3 separate regions of the Homo sapiens genome follow, and regions 1 and 3 are each linked to region 2. The links come from fine-mapping of genetic effects on gene expression. A gene starts in region 2. Each other region holds a variant in brackets. All regions are shown on one strand. Distances are between the middles of the regions. Region 1 overlaps PDS5B (PDS5 cohesin associated factor B). Region 2 holds the start of PDS5B (PDS5 cohesin associated factor B). Region 3 overlaps PDS5B (PDS5 cohesin associated factor B).

Evidence for each region. PIP is the estimated chance that this variant, and not a neighbour inherited with it, causes the effect.
Region 1: its variant is the best candidate, but not a certain one, in a credible set for the expression of PDS5B in whole blood (INTERVAL, PIP 0.53).
Region 3: its variant is the best candidate, but not a certain one, in a credible set for the expression of PDS5B in skeletal muscle (FUSION, PIP 0.77).

What each region holds. Positions count from the first base shown.
Region 1 is chr13:32,631,391-32,641,848 of GRCh38, forward strand. All of the region lies in intron 1 of PDS5B (PDS5 cohesin associated factor B), which reads left to right. Among named protein-coding and RNA genes, the nearest start is that of PDS5B, 50 kb to the left of the region's middle. The variant GTAA/G (reference allele first, on the strand shown) is at 5,850.
Region 2 is chr13:32,582,004-32,592,461 of GRCh38, forward strand. It overlaps PDS5B (PDS5 cohesin associated factor B), which reads left to right and starts at 4,449. Exons shown (of 35, transcript NM_015032.4): 1 at 4,449-4,590. PDS5B-DT (PDS5B divergent transcript) reads right to left here and starts at 4,442. Exons shown (of 3, transcript XR_001749808.1): 1 at 4,374-4,442; 2 at 3,801-3,919; 3 at 3,015-3,566. RefSeq lists silencers at 4,134-4,503, 4,514-4,593, 5,014-5,263 and an enhancer at 5,494-5,553.
Region 3 is chr13:32,711,657-32,722,114 of GRCh38, forward strand. All of the region lies in intron 19 of PDS5B (PDS5 cohesin associated factor B), which reads left to right. Among named protein-coding and RNA genes, the nearest start is that of PDS5B, 130 kb to the left of the region's middle. RefSeq lists enhancers at 2,259-3,243, 8,936-9,529. The variant A/T (reference allele first, on the strand shown) is at 6,043.

The DNA of each region.
Region 1 (10,458 bases), 49 kb after region 2:
CCCCTATTTTTCTTAACATTTCACATTATCTAACACATACATTGACATTTGTTGTCTGTTTTCCTTCAACTTTAATATAAGCTATGCCACGAGAACAATAATCTTTGGCTTTCTCCTACAGTTATATTCCCCAGTCAACAGTACCTGGGATATAATAGGTGCTCAATAAATATTTGTTGTTGAAAGAATGAATGATCTGAGTCTGTATTGTGGCAAGTTTGATTGTATTGTTTTGGCAGAGCCCAATGTTTTAGAGATCAAAGGTGCAGTAAAGTTGACAGTTTTTTGTGAAAATTAGGAGTTCTTACCTAAGTTGTCAGTTGGATATAGTATAGGCCAGGAATATGTATCTGAAGGCAAAGCCAGGATTTAAGGGAAAAAAAAGTTCTTTGGCTTCTTTACAACATGAATTGAGCACCTGAAGTTGTGTTCTAAACTGTTTTCTAAACTTGTCTGACCATAGGAATTGTCTGAGACATTCCTTAAAAACGGCAGAATCTGAAGCTTCTCCCCACACCTCCTGAATCAAAATTTCTAGAGGAGGAACCAGGATATTCTTATTAAAAACAAAGAGGGAAAGAATATCTTCAACAGATGACACTGGGACAACTGGATTTCCACATGCAAAAGAATTAAGTTGGACCTCTCCTTCACATAGTAGATAAAAATGAGCTCAAAATGATCAATGATGTAAATGTAAGATTTAAGCCTGTATACTTTTAGAAGAAAATATGGGAGTAGAATTTTATGAACCTGAATTTATTAGCACAAACAATAAAAAATATATATTGGACTTTATAAAAATTAAAAACTTTTCTGCATCAAAGGACATAAGAAAATGAAAACACAACCTACAGAAGAAAATATTTGCAAGTCATATCTTTAACAAGGATTTAATGTCCAGAATATATAAAGAACTACAGGTCAATGACAAAAAGACAACCTAATTTAAAAGTGAGCAATGATCTTGAATAGACATTTTTCCAAAGATACACAAATAGACCTGTAAGCACATAAGATACTCAACACCATTAATCATTAGGAAAATGAAAATCAAAAACATAATGAGGTTACACTGCATACCTACTAGGATGGCTATAAAAAAACAAAACCAGAAAATAACTGTTGAAGAGGATGTGGAAAAATTGGAGCCCTCATTTGCTGATGTAGCTAGCTGCTGCTGTGAGAAACAGTTTGGTGGTTCTTCAAAAAGCTAATCATAAAGTTACCATAAACTTAGCAATTCCACTGCTAGCTGTGTGCTGAAAAGATTTGTACAGGGACTGAAATGGGTATTTGTACAGCAGTGTTTATTGCAGCACTGTTCACAGTAGCCAAGAATGGAAACCAAGTGTCCACTAGCAGAAGAATGGATAAACAAAATGTGGTATATACATATAATATTCAGTCATACAAATAATTGAAGCTCTGGGCCAGGCGTGGTGGCTCACATCTGCAATCCCAGCACTTTGGGAGGCTGAGGCAGGCGGATCTTGAGGTCAGGAGATCGAGACCATCCTGCCCAACATGGTGAAACCCCGTCTCTACTAAAATACAAAAATTAGCCAGGCGTGGTGGCGCGCGCCTGTGGTCCCAGCTACTCAAAAGAATTTAAGCTCTGATAAGTGCTGTAACAGGATGAACCTGAAAATACACTCAGTGAAATTTGACAGAAAAGGACAAATACTGTGATTCTACTTACATGAGGCACTTAAGGATAGGCAAATTTATAGAGACAGACAGTAGAAGTTACCAGGGGCTGGGGAAAACAGGGCATGGGATGTTATTGCTTAATGGTTACAAGTTTCTTTCTGTTTTGGGTGATGAAAAAGTTTTGGAAATGGTAGTGGTTGCACAATATTGTAAATATAATTAATAATGTCACTTAATTGTACATTTATAAATGGTAGATTCTATGTTACATATATTTTACATAAAAAAAGTATTAGATCTAAAACTATTGAATTGTACACTCTAAAAGATGAATTATTTGATATGTGAATTCTGTCTTAATAAAACTATTTAAGAAAACAAAAACAAAACCAGCTATCCGTGTTTGGACAACACTGTCACAAAACAAAGTTGTTGATTTTAGCCAGGAAGCATATAAGGTAGATGTAATCAGTGAGACTAGATTCAGATTAGATTTAGTAATATTAATCCGTATGCAGTCCCTCAAAACTAATGTCTTTCAGGAATATATCAAGTGTTTATGTACTATAATGATTTTGTTAAGTTTTCCCCATTATAGGGAAATTTATTGAGAAACTTATCAAATTAAACTTTTTGGTGGACTTGACATCCTAATTTTTCTTATAACCCCTCCCCCAGTTTACTCATTATTAATATTTTATTTACAAGGTACATAACTTTGTAAGCAGATTTGTTGAATATTTGTTTATCTTTATGGATACTGTGTTACTTTTAATGAGGTAGAATTAATAGTTGTACTCTCATTTGTCCTGTATACAGTATGGTACATTGGGTCCTTACATATCAATATGGGTGGTACTTTTATGCCCATTTTATTGTCATCTTAAAGAGCTACATTGTAATGTTATGCAATGCCTCCTGGATTTTACTTCTGTCTCAATCTCTTTTCTCCTACTAAACTATACTTCTCTCCTGTTTTCTGTTATATCCTCTCTTCAAATACTCTTATGTTATCTTCCAGTTGTTCAGAGCTTCCTGTTACTGCTTCAGTGAGCCTCTTGCAGTCCCTCATAGATTCCTGCAGTCTTCCTGTGTTCTAGCTGGTATGTCTTTGTCTTTGGAAATTCTCTAAAATACAAATCTCATTTCTCTTTAAATTTCTTAGAAAAGAAAGAAAAAAAATGACAACTGCCTTATGTGATAATGACCAGACTCCTTATCAGAGACTTAAAGCCTTAGATTAACTGGTCCCAATTTCTTTTATAACACCTTCACCAATATGTGCACATGTATATGTACATGCACAGAATCTAGTTGATTCACTTTTGTTTCAGTACTTTTTTCCTTTTTATTCCAATTAGTATCATTTTGTTTATCCATTCACCAGTTAATAGACATTTGGATTGTTTGTTGTTTTTGGGCATTATGAATAATACTGCCATGAATATTCTGGTAAAAGTCTTTGTGTGGATATAGGTTTTCTCTTGGATGGACACCTAGAAGGGGAATTGCTAGGTCATATTGTAAGTTTACATTTAACTTTTTTTTTTTTTTTTTGAGAACAGTGTCTTACTCTGTCACCCAGGCTAGAGTGCAGTGGTGCGATCTCAGCTTACTGCAACCTCCACCTCCAGGGTTCAAGCGATTCTCCTGCCTCAGCCTCCCGAGTAGCGGGGATTACAGCGCCTGCCACTGCGCCTGGCTAGTTTTTGTATTTTTAGTAGAGATGGAGTTTCACTATCTTGGTCAGACTGGTCTCTAACTCCTGACCTTGTGATCCACCCGCCTCGGCCTCCCAGAGTGCTGGGATTACAGGCATGAGCCACCGTGCCCAGCCAACATTTAACCTTTTAAGATACTGTGAAACGTTTTTCAAAAATGGCTGCAGCATTTTACATTCCCATAAAATATGAGGGTTCCAGTTTCTTCACAACCTCAGCAATATTTCTTACTGCCTCTTTTTTTTTTTTTTTTTTTTTAAAGAGGCCGGGCCTTACTCTTGTCACCTAGGCTGGAGTGCAGTAACTTGATGATAGCCTTGAACTCCTGGGCTCAAGCCATCCTCCTGCCTCAGCCTCCTGAGAAGCTAGGACTACAGGCATGCACCACCATGTCCAGCCAATTACGTTTTTTTTTTTTTTTTTTTTTTTTTTTTTTTTTTTTTTTTTTTTTGTGGAGATGGGGGGGTCTCACTGTATTGCCCAGGCTGGTCTAGAATTCCTGCCCTCAAGTGACCCTCCTGCCTTGGCCTCCCAAAGTGCTGGGATTACAGGTGTGAGCCACTATGCCTGGCCTGTCTTTTTTTTTTTTTTTTTTTTAAAGACGGAGTCTTGCTCTGGTGCCAGGCTGGAGTGCAGTGGCATGATCTTGGCTCACTACAACCTCCGCCTCCCGGGTTCAAGTGATTCTCCTGCCTCAGCCTCCGAGGTAGCTGGGATTACAGGTGCGTACCACCACGCCCAGCTAATTTTTGTATTTTTAGTAGAGATGGGGTTTCACCATGTTGGCCAGGATGGTCTTGATCTCTTGACCTCATGATCTGGCCGCCTCAACCTCCCAAAGTGCTGGGATTACAGGCGTGAGCCACTGTGCCTGGCCTGGCCTTTTTGATTAGTGCCATTGTAGTCGCCTAATTAAGCTAAAATATCTTTGTGCCTTGAGTTTCTGGTTGGGCTAACGTTTTTGTTTCTGTTCAGTTTGCTCCGATTTTTTAGTATTCTGATTTTTTTTTTTTTTTTTTTTGAGGCAGAGTCTTGCTCTGTCGCCCAGGCTGGAAGTGCAGTGGTGCTATCTCGGCTCACTGCAAGCTCCACCTCCTCGGTTCACGCCATTCTCCTGCCTCAGCCTCCCGAGTAGCTGGGACTACAAGTGCCCGCCACCACGCCTGGCTAATTTTTTTGTATTTTTAGTAGAGACGGGGTTTCACCGTGTTAGCCATGATGGTCTCGATCTCCTGACCTTGTGATCTGCCTCCCTCGGCCTCCCAAAGTGCTGGGATTACAGGCGTGAGCCACCGCTCCCGGCCTAGTATTCTGATTCTTAATTTCCAATTCAGCATTCCCTAAAGAGCCTGAAGTAAAAACGAGAAAACTTGACCTCTTGTCATTGCTCTGCCACTTACTACAGGGTGACTGTATGCGAGTTCGTCAGCTTTCTGAACTTCATTTTCTTCATCTGTAACATAGGGATGATTCCTACTTTTATAGAATTTTGAAGGAAAATGTGTGCATGAAAGAGCTTTGAAAACCATGATCTGTTTTTAAAAAATTAAAGCTGTCATGCTTACGTATATGAAGTATCAGAAATGCTTACAGAGATAGTAGGCAGAATTAGCACTATATTGTAGTGTTAAGGCATTTGTTACTAAACTTGGCATGTAAATTTCCTCATGGAGCTTTTTTCATATGGAAGTGTTTGGGTCTGATTATTAGAGGATTCAGCAGTGCACCAGAGATGGAAAACCATTAGGTTAAGGGCATAGGCTTTGGAATCAGATATGGCTCAATTTAAGTTCAGTTGTTGATAACTTTAGCATAGTTATTTAACCTCTTTGAACCTCAGTTTCCTTGTTTATAAATGGGCATAATTATATAGTTCATCTTAGTAAGAACATTTATTCAGCTTTTGCTTTTTAACCTGCATTGTGTTATGCATTAGGTATGTAGCAGTGAACAAATTAGGATCCCTAAACTTTTCTCATATAGTTTACAGTTCAGAAGGGGAAACACATTAGAGAATTTGTATTTACATTTATGATAAATTCTTTGAAGCAAAAGTGCAGGGGTGGTGTGAGAGCATGCAGTCAAGATTTTATTTAGACTGAGTAGATTTGGGACAGCTTCCCTGATTGACAGGTGAGACTTGAAAGAGCAGTGTTAGCCAGGCATGAGGGCTAGAGAAGAGAAAAAGTTTATTGAAGCAGAAGGAATAGCACACCCTGAGACAGAAGGATCTTGGTTTAGTGTCTTCAAGGAATAGAGATGTGACTGGAGTGTAATGAGCAAATGGTCAGATTAGTATATTTGGAACTTATTCGAAGGGCAGTGAGAACCTATTTAAGAATTCTAAGTAAGGCAGTGATATGAAGAGATTAGCTTATTAAGATCATTCTGGTTGCTCTCTGAAGAATGAGTTGGATGTGGTGTAGATTTATGTTGTGGTGAAGTAATGGCTAATGATTTCATTTACATTTTGAA[GTAA/G]TGTAAATGATTTCATTTACATTTTGCAAGGTAGCATTTATAGGATTTGATTGTTGATTGTAAATATTGAAAGGGAATTGCCAAGCTTCATTCCCAGAAAACTGTGAGGAAGAAATGGGTACATGAAGGCAACACACACTGAAGAGGGAGAGGAATGAAGAATGAGGATTTTTTTGGAGGGAGAAAAAAATTGGGAGACATTTTGTTTAGTTTTGAGTATCTTGAGTTCGCGGTATCTTTGAGAATACCCAAGTGGAAATGTTAAGTAGACAATTGTATGTGCGGACTGGAGTTGAAAAGAGAGATCTTTATGGAGTATGTATTAAAAGAAAGCTTAGGGCAAAAGCCTTGGGAGAAGAACATAAACAGTAAAAAGAGAATTGAACTCTGATGAGTTAACTGATATTTGGAGGTTGAGTAGAAGAGAAATCAAAGGAGACAGGAATGACCAGTAAGGTAGGAAAAAATCAGGAAAAGGCAATGTGTTACTAGAAGAAACAAAAGGAAAATAATGTTTCAAGGAGGAGGCTGCGGTCAACTGTGTATCATACTGCTGAGATGAATAAAATAAGGATTAGAAAAGTGTTCACTTGATTTGGCAACATAGAGGTCAACTGATGACTTTTAGTTAGCTTTTACTGCATAACAAATCACCCGAAGACTGACTTACTGAAAACAACTGTTCCCAATTGTGTATATTGGCAATTTGGGTTTGGCTTATCTGGGTGGTTCTACTGATCTGGACCAGGCTTAGCTGATTTTAGCTGGGGTTGCTTATGCATCTACAGATATGCCTCTGTGGTCACCTGGTGATTTGGTTAGGGCTGGCTTGTTCATGATGACCATGGCTGGGACAATGTGCCTCTGTGCATATACATTCTAATTTTCCACTGGGATAGCTTGGACTTGCCGACATCTCCATAGCAGAATTCCAAGAGCAGTAGGTAAGCTAACCCAGAGCACAAACACTTACTAAACTTCTCAATGTCCCATTGCCTAAAAGAGTCATAACGCCATCTCAGATTCTAGGTCTGAAAAAACACTTTTATTTCTTGATGGGAGGAGCAGCAAAGTCACATTGTAAGGGTGTAGATACAAGGAATGGAAAAATTTGTTGTCATTTTTTGCAATCTGCTAGTGACTGTGGCAAAAGCATTTTGCTGATGAGGTGGAGTGTGCGGGTGGGGAACTCTTTGGAAGCCAGGTTGGATTAATATGAATAGTGAATGGGAATTGAAAGTAGATAGTATAGATTACTCTTTGAGAAGCTTGTCTGTGAAGGTAATTTGGGAGAGAGGACAATACCTGAGGCAGGGGAGGTATTTGTAGTCTAAACAGGTATGTTGTATTTTCTTTCCCTTCCTGCCTGAATGCCTTCCATCCATCCAATAACAGAATATATTTGAATGCTGAGAGAGTATCTAGTAGACACAGAGGATGCTGATACGGGGGAAAGAGGAGATAACTAATCAAGTAAAAGTCTTTGAGTAGAGGATGGGATTTTGTGTGCTTATGAAGGGGTTAGTGTTTTGATGTGAGGAGGGCTATTTCCTTTCTGGTATTAGGGAAGAGGGAGGGAAGGAAGGAATGGGGAAGGAGGGAAGGGAGGGAATGGGTGCAAATGTACATAGGCATGTAAATTGGGTAATAAGAGGCTGAGGGTTTCCGTTTGATGGCGCTTCTGTTTTCTCAATGAAGCAACAGCAGTCTACATGGGGGCGTGGGGCGGGGGCGGCGTTGTACAAGAATGTGTGTTGGAGATTTGACGTGAATAGAAAAATTCGTAATTTTATCCACCCCCCCACCCCCCACAATGGGATATCGAGTTGACTACTGAGCAGAGAAATACTAATCACTCAATAAATGAGAGATATTATCACTATTAATATACAAGAATTACTTTAAAGAGATTTAACAGAACACTTTCTGTGCGGTTAGAAACTGATGCAGGTCGAGATATTCCAGGGCCTGGGGCTCCTTTTCTGTTTGAGCCAGTTAAACTTTAGTATCTTCCATAACATTGATGGTCCTTAAAAAATGATGTAGGCAAGTGACCATGTTTGCCCTTTTACAAATAAACATTAACAAAAATATGTATTCAAAGAAAGGGTCCAGTTTCTAAAAGAACTTCCTAAAGTATTCACCGTCACTGTTTTACCAGAACAAATAAGGAATAACATAAATACACTGATTTTGAATTAATAAAGATTAATTCAAACTGCATGGTAGATTAGTCAAAAAATTGTATGTTGAAAAAGGCAGATTTTTGTTTAAACAGTTGGAAAATATGTAAACAGGGCTTTCAAGTTGTATGCTTAGGGGAGAATAGCATAATTTACTTAGCGTTTTTTCTCGTAGGAAAAACTCCCATTAGATTTTTGGTTGTCCCTCAACAAGAATAAGCTAAACTTCTTACACTGTTTAATTATTGTGTACTGAAGAGTTGTCTTTATGGAGGGCACCATCTGCTGGTTGCAAGAGGTAGCAGTTGTGGCGAAGACTGCCTTCTGTAGTTATATCAGACTCTTTACAAAATCTTATGTTTTCCTTTGAATTCCACCTCAAACCTGGAGTGAAATCCCAGAAGGAAAAACAGCTTTAAATTAACATGGCCCAGTATGGATTCTAGTAGTGGTTTGATTTGATTTCTGTGACTGTGAATTTTTAAGAAAAATCAACATGAAACTGGCAGATGCCGGTCTTTATTTGTTGATTTGGATGCCTAAATCAACTAAAAAATAGGATTGCTTATTGTTATGATTGCTCTTGCTCTTTAGTCAGTACTTTGTTTTCCTTTTCTATTCAGTGAAAATATCTTACATATTTTTTACTACAGTCTCTTGTTTAGTTACATCTATGAACATTTATTTATGTCTGATAATATTAAAGAATGACCATTTCATTGATTTTTCTTGTACTCAGTGTGATTAAAAGATTCTCATATATTTAATTAATGATCATTTTATTTGAACTTTAAAAAAAAACTTTAGTATTAGAATATTTTCTTTTCTTTTTTCTTTTTGAGATGAAATCTCGCTGTCTCACCCATGCTGGAGTGCAACGGCACGATCTCAGCTCACTGCAACCTCCACCTCCCAGGTTCAAGTGATTCTCTGGCCTCAGCCTCCTGAGTAGTTGAGACTACAGGCATGCGCCACCATGCCCAGCTAATATTTGTATATTTAGTAGAGACGGGGTTTCGCCATGTTGTCCTGGCTGGTCTCAAACTCCTGACCTCAGGTGATCTGCCCACTTTGGGCTCCCAAAGTGCTGAGATTACAGGCGTGAGCCACTGTGCATGGCCTAGTATTAGAATATTTTCTTATGCTTACTGTTCATGCTGAACATAAAAATGTAAATATAATAATATGCATATGATAATTTTTGAACTGAATTGTTTTCTGAAAATGCTTGTTTCAAATAACCCTTTGAAAGAAGGGAAATTCTAGGTTATAGTTTTACTATTAATTGGTGGTAAATTTAAAGTTTATATTTTTTAAATGGAGAAACTCATAAATCAGCACATTGTTGGCCAGGTGTGGTGGCTCACGCCTGTAATCCCAGCACTTTGGGAGGCCGAGGCAGGCAGATCATGAGGTCAGGAGATCGAGACCATCCTGGGTAACACAGTGAAACCCCATCTCTACTAAAAAAAATACAAAAAATTAGCCAGGCGTGGTGGCGAGCTCCTGTAGTCCCAGCTACTCGGGAGGCTGAGGCAGGAGAATGGCGTGAACCCGGGAGGCGGAGCTTGCAGTGAGCCGAGATCACGCCACTGTACTCCAGCCTGGGTGACAGAGTGAGACTCCGTCTCAAAAAAAAAAAAAAAAAAATCACATTTTTCTGTAATATACTATAGTTTATAAAATAGAGTCTGATATAGGCCAGTTTTATATGACTATTTTCTAAGTGCAGTTATTTTTCATTTTTTGTTTGCTCTACCTTAATAGTGAATGGTTGAGATTCCCCAAAGATGAAAGGAACTATTATATGTCAAATCATTTATTTGACATTCTGTTTAAGGAGCAGCTCTGTATCAATACCTGTTTTTCATTGACTTAATGATACCCTCTTCTTCTGTGTTGCTCCTTTTCTGCTTCCTCTTTTTTCTTTTCACCTTTTTCTTATCTCGTAATTTGGTATTCATTCCCATCATTTTCTGGACACTTTTTTCTCAAATATCCTGTCAAGTTCAAGGGAGTATTTGCTGAAGTCATTTTGTATGTTTTCACTGAGGGTGATCATCACTATATGTCACCCCTCCATTTTCAAACATTTTTGCCTAGGTTTTTGTAATATCACTATATATCGTCCCTTCATCTTCAAACATTTTTTCCGTAGATTTTTGTAACAATTACTCTCATTTTTCTAAAGCCATTTTCTTGACTTTCTTCTGTTTTCCTTCTTTATCTCCCCTGTGGGCTCCCACCACCCCAATCACTATAGGTATTTCATTAAGGTTTAGTGTTGGTATCTCAGCTCACCCTACTCATTTTCTTTACTCATCTTGTAAACCCATAAAGCATGAACAATAAATTGTTCTAAAAATATTTTCTCATTTTACACTTTTTTTCTAGAACTTTAGATGTATAATCTACAGTTGCCT
Region 2 (10,458 bases):
TGATTAGTGATTGCATGTGAATATATGTGAAACATATTATATTGAAGGAATTTATACGCCTTTGCACAAATATTCAAAGCAGCAGTCTAAATTCTCCTTTGTCATTCTCCTTACTTTTCAAGTGAAATTGCTCTTGGTTCTATATCTCTTTATTATTTCCAGAAGTTGAACTGATGATAAATGCTTTCTTAAACCCAAATCTCTCTTTGGATGATAATGCAAGCTACGATATTTTGTGTAAAAATTTCTGACATCTATCTTTGGAACTCTTTAAAAAAGTTAGATGTATCAAACATATTCCAATATAGTTTCTGAAGATCTAGTTTACAGAAATTTCCCAGATGATTTTGGTATTCTTCCACTCCACTCGAGTTAAGAACAGCTGCCCTGGGACTGTAGATGAATGTGGCATCCTTTCAGGAATATTTGCATTGTAAAGAGGATCACAGGATGGGCACAGTGCCTCATGCAGGGGATTAATTGTGGAGGGAGAAATTTGAGGCACCAGGGGCTGAGTCTTGGATGAGGGTGAAGGAAAAGAGCCCGTATACCATCTTTCAGCAGTAGTGATGTCATGAATGAAGGATCAACTTCAGGGGCTTGGAGTTTATCAAAATGCCTCACCAGTTTGCCTAATGCCTAAAATATCACAAAGCTAATTTCTGTTGGGCTTAGTTTCTCCTAATGGATATGAATGGGTTAGTGTTTTTTTTTTTTTTTTTTTTGAGATGGAGTCTCGCTCGGTTGTCTAGGCTGGAGTGCAGTGGTGCGATCTCCGCTCACTGCAACCTCCCCCTACCGGGTTCAAGCAATTCTCTGCCTCAGGCTCCCAAGTAGCTGGGATTACAGGCACCTGCCACCACACCTGGCTAATTTTTGTATTTTTAGTAGAGACGGGGTTTCGCCATCTTGGCCAGGCTGGTCCTGAACTCCTGACCTCGTGATCCACCTGCCTTGGCCTCCCAAAGTGCTGGATTACAGGCGTGAGCCACCGAGCCCTGCCTAACTTTTTCAAGTAACACAACCACATTCCAACATGTTTTCTGAGAATCCAATGCCTTAACCCAATAAATTAGTCTAGTGGGAATTTCAGCACTGTTGCAGGCTAACAGGGATCATATTTTTGTCTTGACTAGCCTTTGGGACATACCTTGAATTATGCTGAACCGGTAATGTTTGTCTAGGTAGGGCCCAGTCTTATCATTTACTAATTAGCTGCCCAGTGTGCTCTACTATGTATAATATGATAAACATTTCACCATATTTTGGAAACCATGCTGTAGTGCAGCAAGGCTGTACTCAAAATGCAGTAGGGGCCATAGGGGTATATTTAGGACTGTCCAGGTTAATTGTGTGCATTCCTGATGTCTTTCAACTTGCTAACCTCTTTAACCTCAAATTTGGACTCTATTAAAAAAAGCCCAGGTAACTCAAATATGAGTGATGTGGCAGACTGAATAATGGTCCCCTTACAATATCCATGTCGTAATCCCCAAACCTTTGAATATGTTATGTTACATGGCAAAGGGGAATAAAGGTCACTAATCAATGGACCTTAAATTAGAGATTATCCAAGTGGGCCCAATATAATCACAAGAGTATTAAAAGTGGATGAGGGAGTCAGAGGAAGAGCTGCGGTGACAAAAGCAGGTCAGAGAGACGCCATGGAGCTGGCTTTGCGGATGGAGGAAGGAGGATATGAACCAAGGGATCTGGGCAGCCTCTGGAAGAAGGAAATAGTAAGAAAAGGGATTCTCCTTTGGAGCCTCCAGAAAGACACACAGCCCTGACAACACCTTGATTTTAGCCCAGCGAGATACCTGTCAAACTTCTGCACTCCAGTAAGACAATAAGTTTGTGCTCTTTTAAGCCACCAACTTTGTGATGATTTGTTATAGTGACAAAGTAAAATTAGTAGAGGTGGGAACTACATTTGTGGTTATTCATAATCAAAGACAATTCTCCTAACCATTTCTGTATAAAACCAGCATTTGGACATAATTCCCACATAATTTCTCTTTCTTGGTGTAGAAAGCATTCACAACTGAGTTTTGAATGGTTCACACTCTTAAACTGTCTTAAACAATGTTGTGTTATGTTGCTCCTAATGAATTGCAACTTGGCTATTTTTAAAAATCCCAAACACAGAAGATTATTTTTGTTCAAATATCAACTTTAGATTTTAGTTTTCCCAAACAATATTGTTTTAAATGAAGGTTTATATTACTGATTTCTGTAAAGCCACTTGCAGTCATATAAAAGTATGCCCTTTTGTTAGAAACTATGCCTCATTAAAGCTTTAGGGTTTTTCCTCTGTCTGTCCTAATGGTAATTGCCCCATTGACCCTTACAATGTAGCTATTTTGAAGGCTATCTCCTTTCTGCCCACTCTTTTCTTGGGCTTAATCCTGTGGTGTTAGCAGCCTAACGTGGGCAATATGTATTCCGGGCCTCATTGAAATTCAAGGCATCATTTTATAAGAGAGAGGGTTAATGGTGAAACTGGCAAAACTGCTCACAAAGTTGACGTGACACCTTCAGCCCTTTCAGGACTCACTGCCATATACAAGATGTAGAGTGACATTCTTAAACAATTCATACATCCAACAAAATATTTACTGAGGCTTCCAGGTGTCAAATAATGGGGATAAGAGCACTGAATAATTTATACAAAAACTCTTAGCCGGGCATGGTGGCTCACGCCTGTAATCCTAGCACTTTGGGAGGCTGAGGCAGGCAGATCACGAGGTCAGGAGATCGAGACCATCCTGGCCAACATGGTGAAACTCTGTCTCTACTAAGAATTACAAAAAATTAGCTGAGAGTGGTGGTGTGTGCCTGTAGTCCCAGCTGCTTGGGAGGCTGAGGCAGGGGAATTGCGTGAACTCAAGAGGGAGGTTGCAGCGAGCCAAGATCGCGCCACTGCACTCCAGCTTGGCGACAGATCAAGACTCCATCTCAAAAAAAAAAAAAAAAAAAAGAAAGAAAAAAGAAAAAAAAATTCTTGCTTTCATCCTGGCTTTCTTCTGAAACTTTCTGGCTTCCTGGCTTTGGAGGTTTGGGAATTGAAGAAAATAAAGTAAAAAACATAATAAAAACAACCAAAGAGGAAAGGTTTTTCTAGATCTAGACATCCTACTCTCCCATACAAGATTTATGTTGATGGAACAACGATGTAAAATAAGAAAATTCCTGAGATAATTTTAAAAAGAGGGCAGAAAAAACTCATAGTAGACTTCATCGAGGAATGTATAAAATGGGTAGAACCTGGAGTATTCAGTGGCAAAATCTTGGACACAGGAATACAGTAACACAACATATTGGTCTAGCAAGCACTGGAGGAGACTGAGGCGGAATTGTCCAGCGAATCCCACAAAAATGGAAATGAAGAGGTCTCAGTATCTCTAGGTGCCCGGGTCCGATGGAATACCGATGTACATACCTTTTCTAACACAGTAGCATTAGTTTATATATCAGCATTACCTCTCTTTTGTTTCAGTTGATAAGTATCCTACTGTAATCCATTCATTCACACTTTGCTTGTTCATTGTTGAAACAAATTCTCCCTGGAACAAAATTCTAGTAACCAAATACATCATATCAGGGGAAACTTCCTTACAGCAGGGATGGTATTAAAGTAAAAAGAGGAGGAAGTCCCTTCTTCAGCTCTGGCAGGGACCCGGCTGGGGAGGAAACCTTCCCGCAAGGTAGGTGATCTGCTGTGGTGACCAGGCTAAACCCACTCTACAGCTGCAGGAGGGACTGGCATCCCTTAGAGGTGAAGAGGGGAGGAGACCCACCTCCTGGAATGTGTCCCTGTGGTCTCCAGATGATTTCTTCCTCTAATAAGGACAATTCTGCCAAAGGAATGGAATGCTTCGTCACAGGCTCAATTACTCTGTCTCCGCCAGCCTACCACCTATAAACAATTCCTCAAATTAGGAAAGCGGGGAGATTTAATAAAGACATAACACGTAAAGTGTAGGAAAACTATTTGTATGGCATTCCGAGACGACTAGGTCAGAGTTAACAAGTAAGGAGCAAAGTAGTTAATAATACCAATTCTGTTTACCCATCACAACACCTGTGCTGAATGTCAGGGTTTAAAAAAATCTCCCAACCTTTATCTAAAAAGATAGGGCTACGTAACAATCGGTGTGGTTTTTGTCGGTAGAGGTCTAGGAAGCCGCAAGAGTAGTGGACGCCTTGACAGCTGCCCTTCTCGCGGGCCCCGCGGCGGCGTGCCCGTGTGGTTGCGTGCGCGCGGACGGGGCGGGGCTGAGGAGGGACGTGCGCGCGCGCGGACGGGGCGGGGTGGAGCTCGGAGGGCGGACGCGCTCGGGGCCGTCTGGTCGGCAGGGGGCGCTGCGCACCCATGCCGCGCTCTGCCTGCCCCCGGGTGCTGTCCGCGGCGGTTCGATTGGAGCAGCCGCCGAAGAGCGCTTGGCGCCATTTTGAAGCGGAGAGGAGGAGGAACGGCAGGGCTGGCTGCGGAAGGGGAGGGGGGGGGAGAAGGCGATTGGATGCGGCGGCGGCGGCGGATCCCGGAGAGCCCCGGAGTGAGCGGAGTAGCGAGTCGGCAACCCGGAGGTAGGAAACAATTCAGTTAACGGAAAGAAAATGTCTCTCTTCTCTGGCTGCGGCGCTCCATTTTTCAGCGGCCGCCACTGCCGCTGTGTGCGTGTGTGTGGCAGGGCTGAAGCGCCGCCCGCCTGGGTGCCAGGCGCGACTCGCCTCCCGGCATCGGGGGCTGCAGCGGGTGGCTGCCTGGCGGTGGCCCGGGGCGGGGGTCGCGGGGCGCGGGCCGGCTGCGCGGTGGGGGTGGGGAGGGCCCCGCGGCCGGCGCGCGCCTCCACGCCGCGGGTTCTGCCGCAGCCTCTGGAAAATTAAACTTGCCGCTCTGATCCCGGCCGGGGCGGCGGCGGCGGCGGGCGGTGACCTTGCGCGCGGGCGGGGGTCTCGGGGCCGCCCGGCCGCCCGCGCCCTCCCGCCGCCGCCGTCGCCGCCGCCGCGCCCCTCCCCCCGCGCCCCGGCCGGCCGGCGGCTGTTTCCCGGGCGGCAGGCGGGCGGCGCGGTGCTCCTGTTGAATCCTCCCGCGGGCGGGCTTCTCCCCCTTCCGGGCGAGGGGCGGGCGGGGACCGCGGGTCGGGGCCGCGGGCGCTCTCGCCCCCGCCGCCGGGTCCCCGCGCGCCGCCTGGCCTCCGCTTCGGGCCAGGGGACGGGCTGAGCGTGACATTTTTGCACTGTCCCTCGCCGCTCGCCGGAGGGAAATCGCGCTCACCGCGCCACCCCGAGTGGTCCCCGAGCAGCCAGTTGAGGAAGAGCCCAGCACTGGCGTGGAGGGACTCCTCCCAGGCCACAACTGGGTTCTAGCTTTCCTTTCAGAAGGAACGGCGGGGAAAATGGTGTGCAATTGTGACTCGTTATTGTTTTTACACTGTTATTTTAATGTTACTTTAAAAGTTTTCGGTCCGGAGAAAAACCTTGTTTGTTGTTGTTGCTGCTACTGCTGTTGGTTTTTGGTAGAGACGTGAAAGCTAACTCTTAAGTAGCTCGACAGTTATTTTGGACGAATGACTGAAACCAGAAACGCCGCCCCTCGCCTTCGGAGCTGCAGGCTGCTGCGTTCCTTGCCGCGGACGGGGCGAGCTCCGGGAAGGGTTGGTAGAGCAGCTACCCACCCACTCCACGCGCGTCTTCAACAGCCTCTCTCCCCCAGCGAGGGTTAACCCTTTTTTATGTCGAAGAAAGTGCTTCTCGTACTTTTAATAAGAGGTGATGGATGGGCAGTGGTGCCCAGACTGATCCTACCCTGTTGATGAAATAGTTTCGAAAACTTTGGGTATAGCCTTAATTTAGAGGGTTGGTCTGCGGTGTGGAGAGAGTTGGGTAATCCTATACTATCTTCCTAATGAACTTCAAAAACTCAAGTTGTGTTTACATACAGGAGGCGAGCTGTAAATAAATCGTAATTACCCAATGCTTGAACGGCAGTATAGTCATTGTTCTCAGTTAACACATCCCGAGTTCCCAGACAGAACGTTTTTTATATTAACTCATGTAGTGGTCAGGTAAAGTAATTAAAAGCCACAAATATGGACTTGAAAGACAGCTCTTCATGCAGTACACATGTCTGAGATGTTCGCATCTTTAGGGACAATAAAATGAGTATTCAATGGTGTATGCAGGTCAGTTCGTGCAACAATTAATCTTGTATCTCATGGTGATAGCAGAAAACCTAATTAAAATTTGTAGTGCTGAATATGTAGGTGAAAATTACATGGGAACTTTTATGTGAAGATAGATTTAGTCTCAGAAACTTAACTGTAAAAACACATCTTAAGAACATTATTCCTTATAAATAAAATTTGTACTTAATATACATTTACAAATATGTCTAACAAGATGCACTTTAGACTTTATAAAAATTACCAAAATAGTGACTTTTTCCTCCTTTTTCTGATGGTTTTAAAAATTGTTCTCTTCTCAGCTGGCGTTTACTTAAAGGTATATTTTAAATGGGAAGGTAGTGTTTGTCTTGGCCTTTTTTCTTTTTTTCTTTTCTCCTTGTTTCGGTTAAGGCTGATTTTCCCTATATTAACTTTTCTTTTACAGCAGCTTTTGTTACTCTTGTAGGCTTTGTTCTCTCGTGTTATGTCTCTCCCCTCTCCCCATATTAGAGAGAGATGTGGTGATGATAGTGATTGTTGTTAGGAGATGTTTGTATTAAGCTTATTTGTAATAAGATTCTACCGAGTTGGCTGTTGGATGAAAGTTGTTTAAATTGTTCTGCAGCTTTGTTTAACGAAGTAACATTTTGAGCAGTAGGCTTTATCAATAATTTGTTAGGCCTAAGATAAAGTGATACTCTGTATTAGGCAGGGCTTGCCCTGGAGAGGGGTGCAATGGTAGAAAATACCCAAAACTTTGTGGGGAAGGAATATTTCGGGAAGCTGTATTCTTTCTGCTTTACCTCTTGGGAAATTTAGAGACTGCCTTAGAACTAACAGGAGTGCTCAGTATGATTTGGCATACGGACTCTTGAATGACATGGACTGTATATAACGTATATTGGAAAAGAATACATTTGTGTTTCCTCTGTTAGTGTTAAAGAGCAACAAGAAAACTTAAGGATGATCTCCAACTCACTTATACATGAGAAATTAGGTTCAGATTTTAATTTCATTGATTTATCTGAGGTCACAGTCATATTCATGTGGTGGAACTGGGGCAGCCCTTAAGATATCCTGGAAGCTTAGAAGTTTCCCCATTGTCTTTTTTTGTTCTATTCAGGATTTAGCAATATTTATTAATAAAAATTCAGGGTAGTACATTACCCTCCATCCCCTTCTCACCTTTTTATTCATTTAACCAAGAATAAAGTTTTGTGGTTAGCCGTCTGTTTCAGCGTCTGGTTTTTAATAATTTCTGTTTAGGATTCAGTCCATTTAGGTTGTCTCAGAAGATAGCCTCTTGTAGGTCTCTGTCTCCGGGAGCCGTCTTTCTTTATGTAACATTACTTGACATGGCATTTATTTATTCTTTGTGAAACTTCTAAGAGTAATTTGGGAAAGTTAGTATTGACCTTTGTTTTGTTACAAGATATAGTGCGTGCATGAGTATGCGTGTATTTTTTCATTTTTAAACTCAGTTTGCTACACAAGTCATCTGTCACTTCTAGTTACAATAGGCGTTTTACTTGGTTTTCGTATTCCTGTTCGGGAATGTTAAAGATTCCAAAAATACTTAGTTTAAAAACAAGCCCAGTAGTTTCTCTGAGAGTGTATTTACTTTTTAAGAAGCTGCCAAATGGTTCGCAATTCTGACTCCTTGGAGAGTAGAGGTAAGAAGCCCTTTCCTCACACTGTTCTGTTACAACCACTTGATTCTAACCATTTCCCCCATTACTTGAAAAAGGTTTTAGAATCCTTTCTCATTAATTAGTTCAGAATTAAGAATAAATTTGCTGTGTTGAGACTGTAATTGTTTTAGCTGGCATGAGTGATCGTGCACAGTGAAAAAATCATGATAATAAAACTTAGATGAATAAAATTTATTTGTTCAAATCTTAAAGCCTTTGAGGTTTAAAAAGTATAATCATTGTGTTCTAATAATTAGACATTAATAATAAGTAGTAATTAAAAATACTTGGTTTAGCTATGTAAAACATAAAAGCTAACAGGCTTGGGGGAAAGACTGATTAAAGTAAGAAACTATTTTGAGGCATCTTTTTAAGGACTAAAAGTATTCCACTAGCCTGCCATTCTCTTTTTTGACGGATAATTACCTGATTCAATTAAAATGAACAGGTACAAAACTTCCATATACATACAGTACCAGGGATGATGCACTAAACAGGACTGAAGACACCCTGTCCTATAGAAGTGCAGAGTAGTGGTTGGCCATCCACAGCAAGGTGATGAGAGCTGAGACAGACCAGAGAGTAGGATCTCTGCTGTTACTTAGTTCCGAAGGAGCAGGCCCTCCTTCCTTTTCAGTGGCAGTTGAGGTTGCTCTTTTTATGTGGGAGAGTGAAATTAGCCAAGATTAGATCCCATAAGGAGAAGGAGGGGCTCTTATAACCAAGACCATTGTCTTTCTCTAGAAGAGGATGGTTAGGGACCTGAAAAGAAATGAGATTTTGTGTTTCCTTAGGTAAGATAGGATTCTTTCTCCTCAGAGGTGATTTTAGGGAAGTAATTGAAGATATTTTAAAGGAAAGCTCCATATCTCCAAAATATTATTTAGTAGCTGAAGTTCTACCAGGTAGTTTCAGTTAGCTTTCAGATATGGGATGCTTTGGGTTGGGTGTGGGGGTGAGAGTTGCAGGGGCAAGTTGCAGGGGCAAGATGCTGGGCAAATTGCAGGGGTGAGAGTTGCAGGCCTTAAGTACTCTATTAGGGGAATAGAGTACCTAAAGAATTGTGTATTTTAAGTTAAAAGTTATACAGGTATATGGTAAAAAAAAAAAAAATTTAATGATAGAGTAAAAAATGTTACTTTTTTCCTCCCCCCACAGGTAATCCACTGTTAACAGTTTCTTAAAAGTTTACTTTAAAAAAAATTGTACAAAGAGTATTGTTATACTGTTGTACTGTAATTTACTATTTTATTTATTTATTTTATTATTATTATTATTTTTTGAGATGGAGTCTCGCTCCGTTGCCCAGACTGGAGTGCAGTGGGGCAATCTTGGCTCACCACAACCTCCACCTCCTGGGTTCAAGTGATTCTCCTTCCTCAGCCTCCTGAGTAACTGGGACTACAGGCGTGTGCCACCATGCCCAGATAATTTTTGTATTTTTAGTAGAGACTGTGTTGGCCAGGCTGGTCTCAAACTCCTGACCTCGTGATCCGCCCGCCTCGGCCTCCCAAAGTGCTGAGATTACAGGCATGAGCCACCACGTCCGGCCTACTGTTTTATTTTTTAACTGTGATTTACTTTTTTCCTTAGTTAAGTCACAAGCTCTTTTCATACTGGCACATACAGATCAACATAATTAAGAAATAATAAGAATATTTTATTATAACATAATTTATTTTTTCTGACTCCTGTTGAGTAGTACTACGTTGTAATAGTTTACATTGACCAGCAGCGTATGAGAATGCCTGTGACATGTATTTACCAACATTGGACTTTAAAAAACTATATTGCCAATTTGATATATGAAATTTGTCTTGTTTTGGGTTTGTATTTCTTTGTGAGTGAAGGTAAACATTTGTTTATATGCTTATTAGGGGGAGGCCATTTGCAACATATTCTTTAATCAAGTGGTTTAATGCTAGTTTAATTTACTTGCTGCCCCCACCACCTACCTTCACCCTTACCTAAGAGCTAAGATGGTCTGAGAGAAGTGGGACTTTAAGAAGAGGAAAAATATTTTGGGGCTCATGGCACCTTGACGGGGAGCAATGCTCTGAATGGAGAGGCTACAGCACCTGGCTTTGAACAACTCTGGGTCAGTATGAGAGTATTGAAAGCCCTTGACTTGGTGTAAACATAAGGTAGAAGAGAAGCTGAAGCGACACACAGGAAGGGAGATTTGAGAGTCAGGGCAAATAAATTTTGTATAGAGTCAACCCCACCTTGTACCATCTGCTTATCCTGTCTCATCACTTCTCCCTCCCACCTTCAACTATCATTTCATTTTTATTCATACTGTCATTTGGTTTTCTCCTCTTTTCCTGTCAGGCATGGCAGCCTGGACCTGGGTATTTCAAATGCCCCAGAGATGAGGTGTGCTTAGTTTTTGGTTTTCTTTTTTTTTGAGACGGAGTTTCGCACTTGTTGCACAGGCTGGAATGCAGTGGTGTGATCTCGGCTCACTGCAGCCTCGGCCTTGGCAGGTTCAGGCGATTCTCCTGCCTCAGCCTTCTGAGTAGCTGGGACTACAGGTGCACGCCACCACGTCTGGCTAATTTTTTGCATTTTTAGTAGAGACAGGGTTTCACCATGCT
Region 3 (10,458 bases), 130 kb after region 2:
CTTGACTTCTAATTTTTAAGTAATCCCAGAGCATAAGCTTCCCTTTGGATGGTGCTATGGCTCTCCTAGTCAGATCAGAGATGAGAGTTTGGTTGTATGTATGTGTATGTGTATGTGTGTATTTGTCGCACACACATATGTAGTACGTATACATACCCACTCATTATGTATAAACTGTATATAACAGTATACCATTTGCTGAATGCCCACTTACTATACTGTCTCATTTAAACATTGTAACAATTCAGTGAAGTGCGGTTATTATCCTAGTTTTCCAAATGAGGAATCTAATGTTCAAGTGGTAAATGGACCCAGGTCATACAGCTAGCAAGTGACAGAGCCAGGATTTGAATTTAGGCCTGTTTGGCTCCAGTGCCTATGGTGCGATATCCATTACAGCAGTTTCTTTTCTAATTAGAGCATTGACAAAGTTCAAATTTGGCTTATTCCCTGGAGGTTTTATTATTTTCATTCTAGATTGTTTTTCCCTAGTAACTTTTATATTTTAAAGAAACATGGTTTGATATATTTGTAGAACCACAAGAACAGGGTCAAAAGGTGGACATTTTAAAATGTACATGGAGCATTTTAAAATGTATTGCTTTAATATGGAACTGAAGTATTTAAAATATTTGATTTATATACTGAATATATTTCAGATACTTCTCATGAGGAGAATTAACTCAGCTGATACTGAATTCCTGCAGTGTGCACACACTGTTGTTGATGAAATAACTCATAATAATTTCTTCCAGGAGATAAACTATGTATGTAGATTTAATTTTTTAAATTATTAAATTGGGTGAGTTGATTTTGAGGAAAAATAATATAGTTAAGAGAATGTTGATTAAACTGTCTTCCCTTGAATTCATCAAAATAATTAAAAAGAACCTAAAGAAAAATGTATTTAAGTAAAGCTACCACCAACTGGACAGAATTGGCACCAGATGTGCCCTTAAGACTCTATTGAAAGTGAGAGCACTGACAAGGGATATGTATTGGCAGTGTACTGTAAGTGTCCTATTATTTGCTAATTTAGAGGGAGGATATTGCTATATGGACACACTTTAAGAGAAAGAAAGAAAACCTGATTTTAGCTGTACTAGGACTAAAGGAGAGGCTTTGTGGTCATAGTATTTTTCTTTAGGTCAACCTGTTTACCAGGAAGAGCAAAGTTTAGTGATGAGGTAAGACTAAGGAAAATCATGAAGGAAATATCTTTTTACCAACTTTACGGGAACAGAAGAAAATTATACGCTTAACCCATTAAACAAAAAATGAAGATGAGTTATGGGGTTCCATAACGATGAGTTATATGAGTTCCATTGTGTCTCAGCTTGTCTCTCAGGAGTCTGACTCCCCTAAAAGTAGTTAGATGTGCCAAAACTGAGGATCCTGTCATAACATGTGATGTACCCATAGCTCAAGTGACTGGTTCTTATCCTTGTAAGAGTTTTAACAAATTTGGAGATAAATTACACAGAGAAAAAGGACTTACTACCTTTAGTCCTAACTCTCATTCCTATGCTACTTAGCCAGGTGATGAAGCAACTGTAGCCTGAGTTGGGAGCTTTGATGTTAATTTTTTAAAGAAGTGTTCAGTCATCCGGGAGATGCTAACTATACTTTTGTTTAAATAGCAAAGCCAGAGAGAATTTTTCTTATTCAAAGATGAATTAACAGAATACAGATAAGCAAGTTAACAAACACAAAACCTATGTAAATATCTTAGCATTCCAAAGTAACTGATAAGCAATACTTAAATAACTGTCTTAGTTATTTAAGCTGCCAAGGAAGGTAAACAGCAAATGACATGAGAGAAAAAAGATAACAAAAATGAAGTAATACATGAAAAAGAGCTAAGGATATTGACTATAGAATATAATTTAATATAAGTAGCAAGGAGCAGAATAAACAATGTGGAAGATGGAATCAGTAAGCTAGAGATTTGGCTTGAGGAAATCTGCATAGAATATAGAGAAATTGGAGAGAAAAAATGGAGTTAAAGGGAATGAATTGCAGATAGTGAAAAACCATAATTGACATCTTTGGAGAAGACAGTAGAATAATGGGAAATGGAAAATATTCAAGAAAATAATAATAAATTTGTTCTGAATGATTTAAAATATGAATCTGGAGGTGAAGACTCATTTTTGGAAAATATACTGGTGCAGTTTGCTAAATTTTCAGGGATTGCAAAAGTGATTTCACAAATATCAAGAAAAACTAGTTATATCGGGGAACCTGCCCCGATAATCATGTAGGTTCTTTTCTATTTTTCCTAAGCGGCGGCCGGCTTGAGAAATAAAGGGACAGAGTACAAAAGAGAGAAATTTTAAAGCTGGGCATCCAGGGGAGACATCACAAATTGGTAGGATCCGTGATGCCCCACAAGCCACAAAAACCAGCAAGTTTTTATTAGAGATTTTCAAAAGGGGAGGGAGTGTGTGAATAGGTGTGGGTGACAGACATCAAGTACTTAACAGGGTAATAGAATATCACAAGGCAAGTGGAGGCAGGATGAGATCACAGGACCACAGGACAGAGGCAAAATTAAAATTGCTAATGAAGTTTCGGGCACCATTGTCACTGATAACATCTAATCAGGAGACAGCGTTTTGAGATCAACCGGTCTGACCAAAATTTATTAGGCGGGAATTTCCTCTTCCTAATAAGCCTCACAGGACCACAGGACTGAGGCGAAATTAAAATTGCTAATGAAGTTTTGGGCACCATTGTCATTGATAACATCTTATCAGGAGACAGGGTTTTGAGATCAACCGGTCTGACCAAAATTTATTAGGCAGGAATTTCCTCTTCCTAATAAGCCTAGGAGCGCTATGGGAGACTGGAGTCTGTTTTAGCTCTGCAGCCTCAACCATAAGAGACAGGCGCACCTGGGGGGGCTGTTTATAAGCCTATACCTCCAGGTGCGTATTCTCTTTCTCAGGGATGTTCCATGCTGAGAAAAAGAATTCAGCGATATTTCTCCCATTTGCTTTTGAAAGAAGAGAAATACGGCTCTGTTATGCCTGGCTCACCGGCGGTCAGAGTTTAAGGTTATCTCTCTTATTCCCTGAACGATTGTTGTTATCCTGCTCTTTTTTCAAGGTGCCCACATTTCATATTGCTCAAACACACATGCTATATAATTTGTGTAGTTAACACAATTATCACATGGTCCTGAGGCGATATACATCCTCCTCAGCTGACAGGATTAAGAGATTAAAGTAAAGACAGGCATAGGAAATCACAAGAGTATTGATTGGGGAAGTGATAAGTGTCCATGAAATCTTTACAAATTTTATGTTTAGAGATTGCAGTAAAGACAGGCATAAGAAATTACAAGAGTATTAATTTGGGGAACTAATAAATGTCCATGAAACCTTTACAATCCATGTTCTTCTGCCATGGCTTCAGCTGGTCCCTCTGTTTGGGGTCCCTGACTTCCTGCAACATAGTTAGGTCAGCGCAGTGGAAAATAATGAAGCTGGCTGACTTCTTTTCAAACCACACACAATTTCTGAAGTTAATGATTCAACAGCTGGAGAGTTCTGATGGAAAAAACAGTATAACTAAAGAATTTCCTAGGCAGCCCTAGCTACTTTTAAGTAGGGGCAAATGAAGGATATTCTTAAGTATACAGGACTCAGTAAATGTACCACCCCTTTTTTATCATGAGGTTACCCTGTCTACATAGTTTTATGCTTTTCCGTCTGGAACTCAGTTTTGCTTATGCCCTCTAAATCTAGATTTTGTTTCCTTTTTGTTTGTATATCTCTGATTTGTCTTTGCCTATCATTTTAGTTTAATTATTTAACTTTTAGATATGGCTATGTAAATGTATTTGAAAACCTGGATTTTTAAGAATGATGTAAATAAGTTCAAGATGAGGAAAGACAAAAACCTAACAGACTCTAGTTATAAAAAAATTGAAACATTATTCGCTAATAAAACCACCAGTGTAGCTCTCCCTCTCCCTCTCCCTATCCCTCTCCCTCTCCCCACGGTCTCCCTCTCCCTCTCTTTCCACGGTCTCCCTCTGATGCTGAGCCAAAGCTGGACTGTACTGCTGCCATCTCGGCTCACTGCAACCTCCCTGCCTGATTCTCCTGCCTCAGCCTGCCGAGTGCCTGCGATTGCAGGTGCGCGCCGCCACGCCTGACTGGTTTTCGTATTTTTTTGGTGGAGACGGGGTTTTGCTGTGTTGGCCGGGCTGGTCTCCAGCTCCTAACCGCGAGTGATCCGCCAGCCTCGGCCTCCCGAGGTGCCGGGATTGCAGACAGAGTCTGGTTCACTCAGTGCTCAATGGTGCCCAGGCTGGAATGCAGTGGCGTGATCTTGGCTCGCTACAACCTCCACCTCCCAGCCGCCTGCCTTGGCCTCCCAAAGTGCCGAGAGTTGCAGCCTCTGCCCGGCCACCACCCCGTCTGGGAAGTGAGGAGCGTCTCTGCCTGGCCGCCCATCGTCTGGGACGTGAGGAGCCCCTCTGCCTGGCTGCCCAGTCTGGATAGTGAGGAGCGTCTCTGCCCGGCGTGCCATCCCATCTAGGAAGTGAGGAGCGCCTCTTCCCGGCCGCCATCCCATCTAGGAAGTGAGGAGTGTCTCTGCCTGGCCTCCCATCCTCTGAGATGTGGGGAGCGCCTCTGCCCTGCCGCCCCATCTGGGATGTGAGGAGCGCCCCTGCCCGGCTGCGACCCCGTCTGGGAGGTGAGGAGTGTCTCTGCCCAGCCACCCCGTTTGAGAAGTGAGGAGACCCTCTGCCTGGCAACCGCCCCATCTGAGAAGTGAGGAGCCCCTCCGCCCGGCAGCCGCCCCGTCTGAGAAGTGAGGAGCGCCTCCGCCCAGCAGCCACCCCGTCTGGGAAGTGAGGAGTGTCTCCACCCGGCAGCCACCCCATCTGGGAGGGAGGTGGGGGTCAGCCCCCGCCAGGCCAGCCGCCCCATCCGGGAGGGAGGTGGGGGGGTCAGCCCCCCGCCCGGCCAGCCGCCCCGTTTGGGAGGGAGGTGGGGGGGGTCAGCCCCCCGCCCGGCCAGCTGCCCCGTTTGGGAGGTGAGGGGCGCTTTTGCCCAGCCGCCCCTACTGGGAAGTGAGGGGCCCCTCTGCCCGGCCAGCCGCCCCGTCCGGGAGGGAGGTGGGGGGGTCAGCCCCCTGCCCGGCCAGCCGCCCTGTCTGGGAGGGAGGTTGGGGGGTCAGCCCCCCGCCCGGCCAGCCGCCCCGTCCGGGAGGTGAGGGGTGCCTTTGCCTGGCCGCCCCTACTGGGAAGTGAGGAGCCCTTTTGCCCGGCCAGCCACCCCGTCCGGGAGGGAGGTGGGGGGGTCAGTCCCCCGCCCGGCCAGCTGCCCCGTCCGGGAGGGAGGTGGGGGGGTCAGCCCCCCGCCCGGCCAGCCGCCTCGTCCGGGAGGGAGGTGGGGGGGTCAGCCCCCCGCCCGGCCAGCCGCCCCGTCCGGGAGGTGAGGGGCGCCTCTGCCCGGCCGCCCCTACTGGGAAGTGAGGAGCCCCTCTGCCAGGCCACCACCCCATCTGGGAGGTGTACCCAACAGCTCATTGAGAACGGGCCATGATGACAATGGCGGTTTTGTGGAATAGAAAGGGGGGAAAGGTGGGGAAAAGATTGAGAAATCGGATGGTTGCCGTGTCTGTGTAGAAAGAAGTAGACATGGGAGACTTTTCATTTTGTTCTGTACTAAGAAAAATTCTTCTGCCTTGGGATCCTGTTGATCTGTGACCTTACCCCCAACCCTGTGCTCTCTGAAACATGTGCTGTGTCCACTCAGGGTTACATGGATTAAGGGCGGTGCAAGATGTGCTTTGTTAAACAGATGCTTGAAGGCAGCATGCTCGTTAAGAGTCATCACCACTCCCTAATCTCAAGTACCCAGGGACACAAACACTGCGGAAGGCCGCAGGGTCCTCTGCCTAGGAAAACCAGAGACCTTTGTTCACTTGTTTATCTGCTGACCTTCCCTCCACTATTGTCCTATGACCCTGCCAAATCCCCCTCTGCGAGAAACACCCAAGAATGATCAATAAAAAAAAAAA[A/T]AAATAAATAAATCAATAAATTAAAAAAAAAAAAAAAGCACCAATGTAAGTTGTGTCTTGAGGGAGATATTTCAAATCTATAAGAAACCAGGAATTCTAATTCTTTTAATTGTTCAGAGTATAGAAAAGAAAGCACTCATTTTCTTTACAGCCAGGATAACTAACATGAATACTAAAACCTAGTAAAAGATATCCTCCCCACCCACCCCCCCAAAAAAAAACGCTAAGACAAATCTTACTAATATGTGATTTTTGTATAAGCAAGATAGTAGCAAAAAGAGAATTTAAATAATAAAGCGAGAATATATTATGGCCAAACATGGTTAATTTTAGGAGTATACAGAGAGCGTTGGTACAATATTAGTAAGCCTACTATTTATGTTTACAATTTATTATATAAGTAGGGAAAAGGGTATACAATAGATCATTTTTGATAGATGCTGAAAGGGCTTCTGAATTTTTTTTTTTTTGAGACGGAGTCTCGCTCTGTCGCCCAGGCTGGAGGGCAGTGGCATGATCTCGGCTCACTGCAAGCTCCGCCTCCCGGGTTCACACCATTCTCCTGCCTCAGCCTCCCGAGTAGCTGGGACTACAGGCGCCCGCCACCATGCCCGGCTAATTTTTTGTATTTTTAATAGAGACGGGGTTTCGCTGTGTTAGCCAGGATGCTCTCGATCTCCTGACCTTGTGATCCGCCTGCCTCGGCCTCCCAAGGTACTGGGATTAGAGGTGTGAGCCACCACGCCTGGCCAAAAAAATCAGTCTGTTTCTAATTAAATCTAATAAGATAGGAATCCGTACCTTCATAACATAATTAATATCTCTCAAACCAATAGGCAGCATCATGTAAAACACCAGTAGCATTCCCAATAAAAGCAGGAACAAGGTGAGATACCACACTATCTCTGCTATTGTTTAACATTGTTTTGGAAGCATTAGCTAGTGTAATTATGTAAGAATATAAAATAAGAAATACAAGTGTGGGAAAGGAAGAAGCTTTCATTTTTCTTGGAAAATCCAGGAGAATCAACCGAAAAACTACTCAAAATGGGGTAGCCAAAATGAGTATGTAAAAATCCAAAGTTTTCTGTATATAACCAACAATCATTTACATTATTATGGGAGTAAACATCAGAAGACCTAGAAGTAAAGTATACAAGAAATTTGCAATGCTGTAATAATGGTGGATGGGGGGATATAATACTTAACAAATACATTGGTCAGGAAAAGGTACGTTACCTAGTAAATAATTAGCAAGCAGTTTTGAAAGGAAAATAGACTGCTTACTTTGATTTTACATATATTCCAGAAGAATCAAAGACAAATTATTGCATTAAGTGTATAACATGGATTTGGTTTAAGTATATAACATGAATTAAAATACTAGTAACCAGTATATTTTTATAACTTCCTTGTTTGTAGAGGAAGGGACACTTATACCAAGTCATGAATGAAATATTGATGGGTTGGATTATTGTTATTATTACTATTATTATTTTGTTGAGATAGGGTCTTGCTCTGTTACCTAGACTGGAGTGCAGTGGCTCAATCATGGCCCACTGCAGCCTCAACTTCCTGGGCTCAATCAGTCCCCCCACCTCAGCCTCCCAAGTTGTTGTGTCTACAGGCATATGCCACCATGCTTGTCTAAATTTTGTATTTTTTGTAGAGACAGGGTTTTGCCATGTTGCCCACGCTGGTCTTGATCTCCTGGGCTCAGGTGATCTGCCTAGCTTGGCCTCCCAAAGTGTTGGGATTACAGGCATGAGCCACCATGCCTGGCCTGGATTGTATTATTTTTAAAAAATTCATTTGTTGCAAAAAAATCTATGTGTTACCCCCCACTCCCTGCCCCACCATGTATGGTATGGTTCTAGGTGTACAGTACAGTTCTAGGTGTCGAGGACATTGTAATAAAGAGGACAGGCTAAGTCTCTCTGCCCTTTTATTTTAGTGGGGGTGAGGAACCACTATTTAGATAAAAGCCAAAATCATGAAATAAGTTGGAAACACAAATGATATGCTGGAAAACTATTTTCAGTATATATTAGTTAGAAAAGGTTAATACCTGCAATGTATAAAGACCCCCCCCCCTTTTTTTTTTGTTTGAGACAGGGTTTCACTCTGTCTCCCAGGCTGTAGTGTAGTGGCTTGATCTCTTGGCTCACTGCAACCTCTGCCTCCCAGGTTCTAGCAGTTTTTGTGTCTCAGCCACCCAAATAGCTGGGATTACAGGCGTGTGCCACCACCCCTGGCAATTTTTTTTTGTTTGTGTTTTTAGTAGAGACTGGATTTTGCCATGTGGGCGGGGCTGGTCTCTGTCTCCTGGCCTTAAGTAATCTGTCCGCCTTGGCCTCCCAAAGTGTTGGAATTACAGGTGTGAGCCACTGTGCCTGGCTGCAATGTATTAAAGATTCTTAATGAAGGAATAACAAATATAAATCTCATAGTAGAATACTAGCAAAGAGAATGAACAGGAAATTTATAAGCAGGAAGTCCTGTCAGCCTTCCAAATCATGAAAAGATGCTTATGTAATCAAGGAAATACAAATATAAGCAATTATGTGATGCAACCAGTATTAGTTAGCATTCCAACAATGCTGTCTTGGTGGGAGTATAAAATGATGCTATGCTTCTAGGTTGGTAACGTGGTAATATATGCAAACTTAAAATGTGTATAGTTTTTGGCTCTGCACTTTCAGGAACTTATCCCAGAGATAATTAGAAAAGATGTGCACATAATCTGTCATATAGTTCAGGGTTCAGTCAGAGAAACAAACTATACTAGGTATAAAGTCATGTACTGCATAATGGTGCGTTGGTTAACGATAGACCAGATGTATATGGTAGTCTCTTAAGATTATGATGGAGCTGCACTGCACAGGGGTACAACTTTTATCTTTATTTTTTATTTTTATTTATTTATTTATTTTATTATTTTTTTTTAAAATTTTTTTAGTATTTATTGATCATTCTTGGGTGTTTCTTGGAGAGGGGGATTTGGCAGGGTCATAGGACAATAGTGGAGAGAAGGTCAGCAGATAAACATGTGAACAAAGGTCTCTGGTTTTCCTAGGCAGAGGACCCTGCGGCCTTCCGCAGTGTTTGTGTCCCTGGGTACTTGAGATTAGGGAGTGGTGATGACTCTTAATGAGCATGCTGCCTTCAAGCATCTGTTTAACAAAGCACATCTTGCACCGCCCTTAATCCATTTAACCCTGAGTTGACACAGCACATGTTTCAGAGAGCACGGGGTTGGGGGTAAGGTTATAGATTAACAGCATCCCAAGGCAGAAGAATTTTTCTTAGTACAGAACAAAATGGAGTCTCCTATGTCTACTTCTTTCTACACAGACACAGTAACAATCTGATCTCTCTTTCTTTTCCCCACATTTCCCTCTTTTCTATTCGACAAAACCACCATTGTCATCATGGCCCGTTCTCAATGAGCTGTTGGGTACACCTCCCAGACGGCGTGGTGGCTGGGCAGAGGGGCTCCTCACTTCCCAGACGTGGCAGCCGGGCAGAGGCGACCCCCACCTCCCAGACGGGGTGGCTGCCGGGCGGGGGCGCCCCCCACCTCCCAGACGGGGTGGCTGCCGGGCGGGGGAACCCCCCACCTCCCAGACGGGGCGGCTGCCGGGCGAGGGCTCCCCCCACCTCCCAGACGGGGTGGCTGCCGGGCGGGGGTGCCCCTCACTTCCCAGACGGAGCGGCTGCCGGGCGGAGGGGCTCCTCACTTCTCAGATGGGGCGGCCGGGCAGAGGTGCTCCTCAGTTTCCAGACGGGGTCGTGGCCGGGCAGAGGCGCTCCTCACTTCCCAGACGGGGTGGCGGCCGGGCAGAGGTGCTCCTCACCTCCCAGATGGGGTGGCGGCCGGGTAGAGACGCTCCTCACCTCCCAGACGGGGCAGCCGGGCAGAGGTGCTCCTCACATCCCAGACGGGGCGGCCGGGCAGAGGCGCTCCCCACGTCCCAGATAGTGGGCGGCCAGGCAGAGACGCTCCTCAATTCTTAGACAGGATGACGGCCGGGAAGAGGCGCTCCTCACTTCCCAGACTGGGTGGCCTGGCAGAGGGGCTCCTCACATCCCAGACAATGGGCAGCCAGGCAGAGACACTCCTCACTTCCTAGACGGGATGACGGCTGGGAAGAGGCGCTCCTCACTTCCCAGACTGGGTGGCCGGGCAGAGGGGCTCCTCACATCCCAGACAATGGGCAGCCAGGCAGAGATGCTCCTCACCTCCCAGACGGGGTGGCGGCCGGGCAGAGGCTGCAATCTCAGCACTTTGGGAGGCCAAGGCAGGCGGCTGGGAGGTGGAGGTTGTAGCGAGCCGAGATCACGCCACTGCACTCCAGCCTGGGCAACATTGAGCACTGAGTGAGCAAGACTCCGTCTGCAATCCCGGCACCTTGG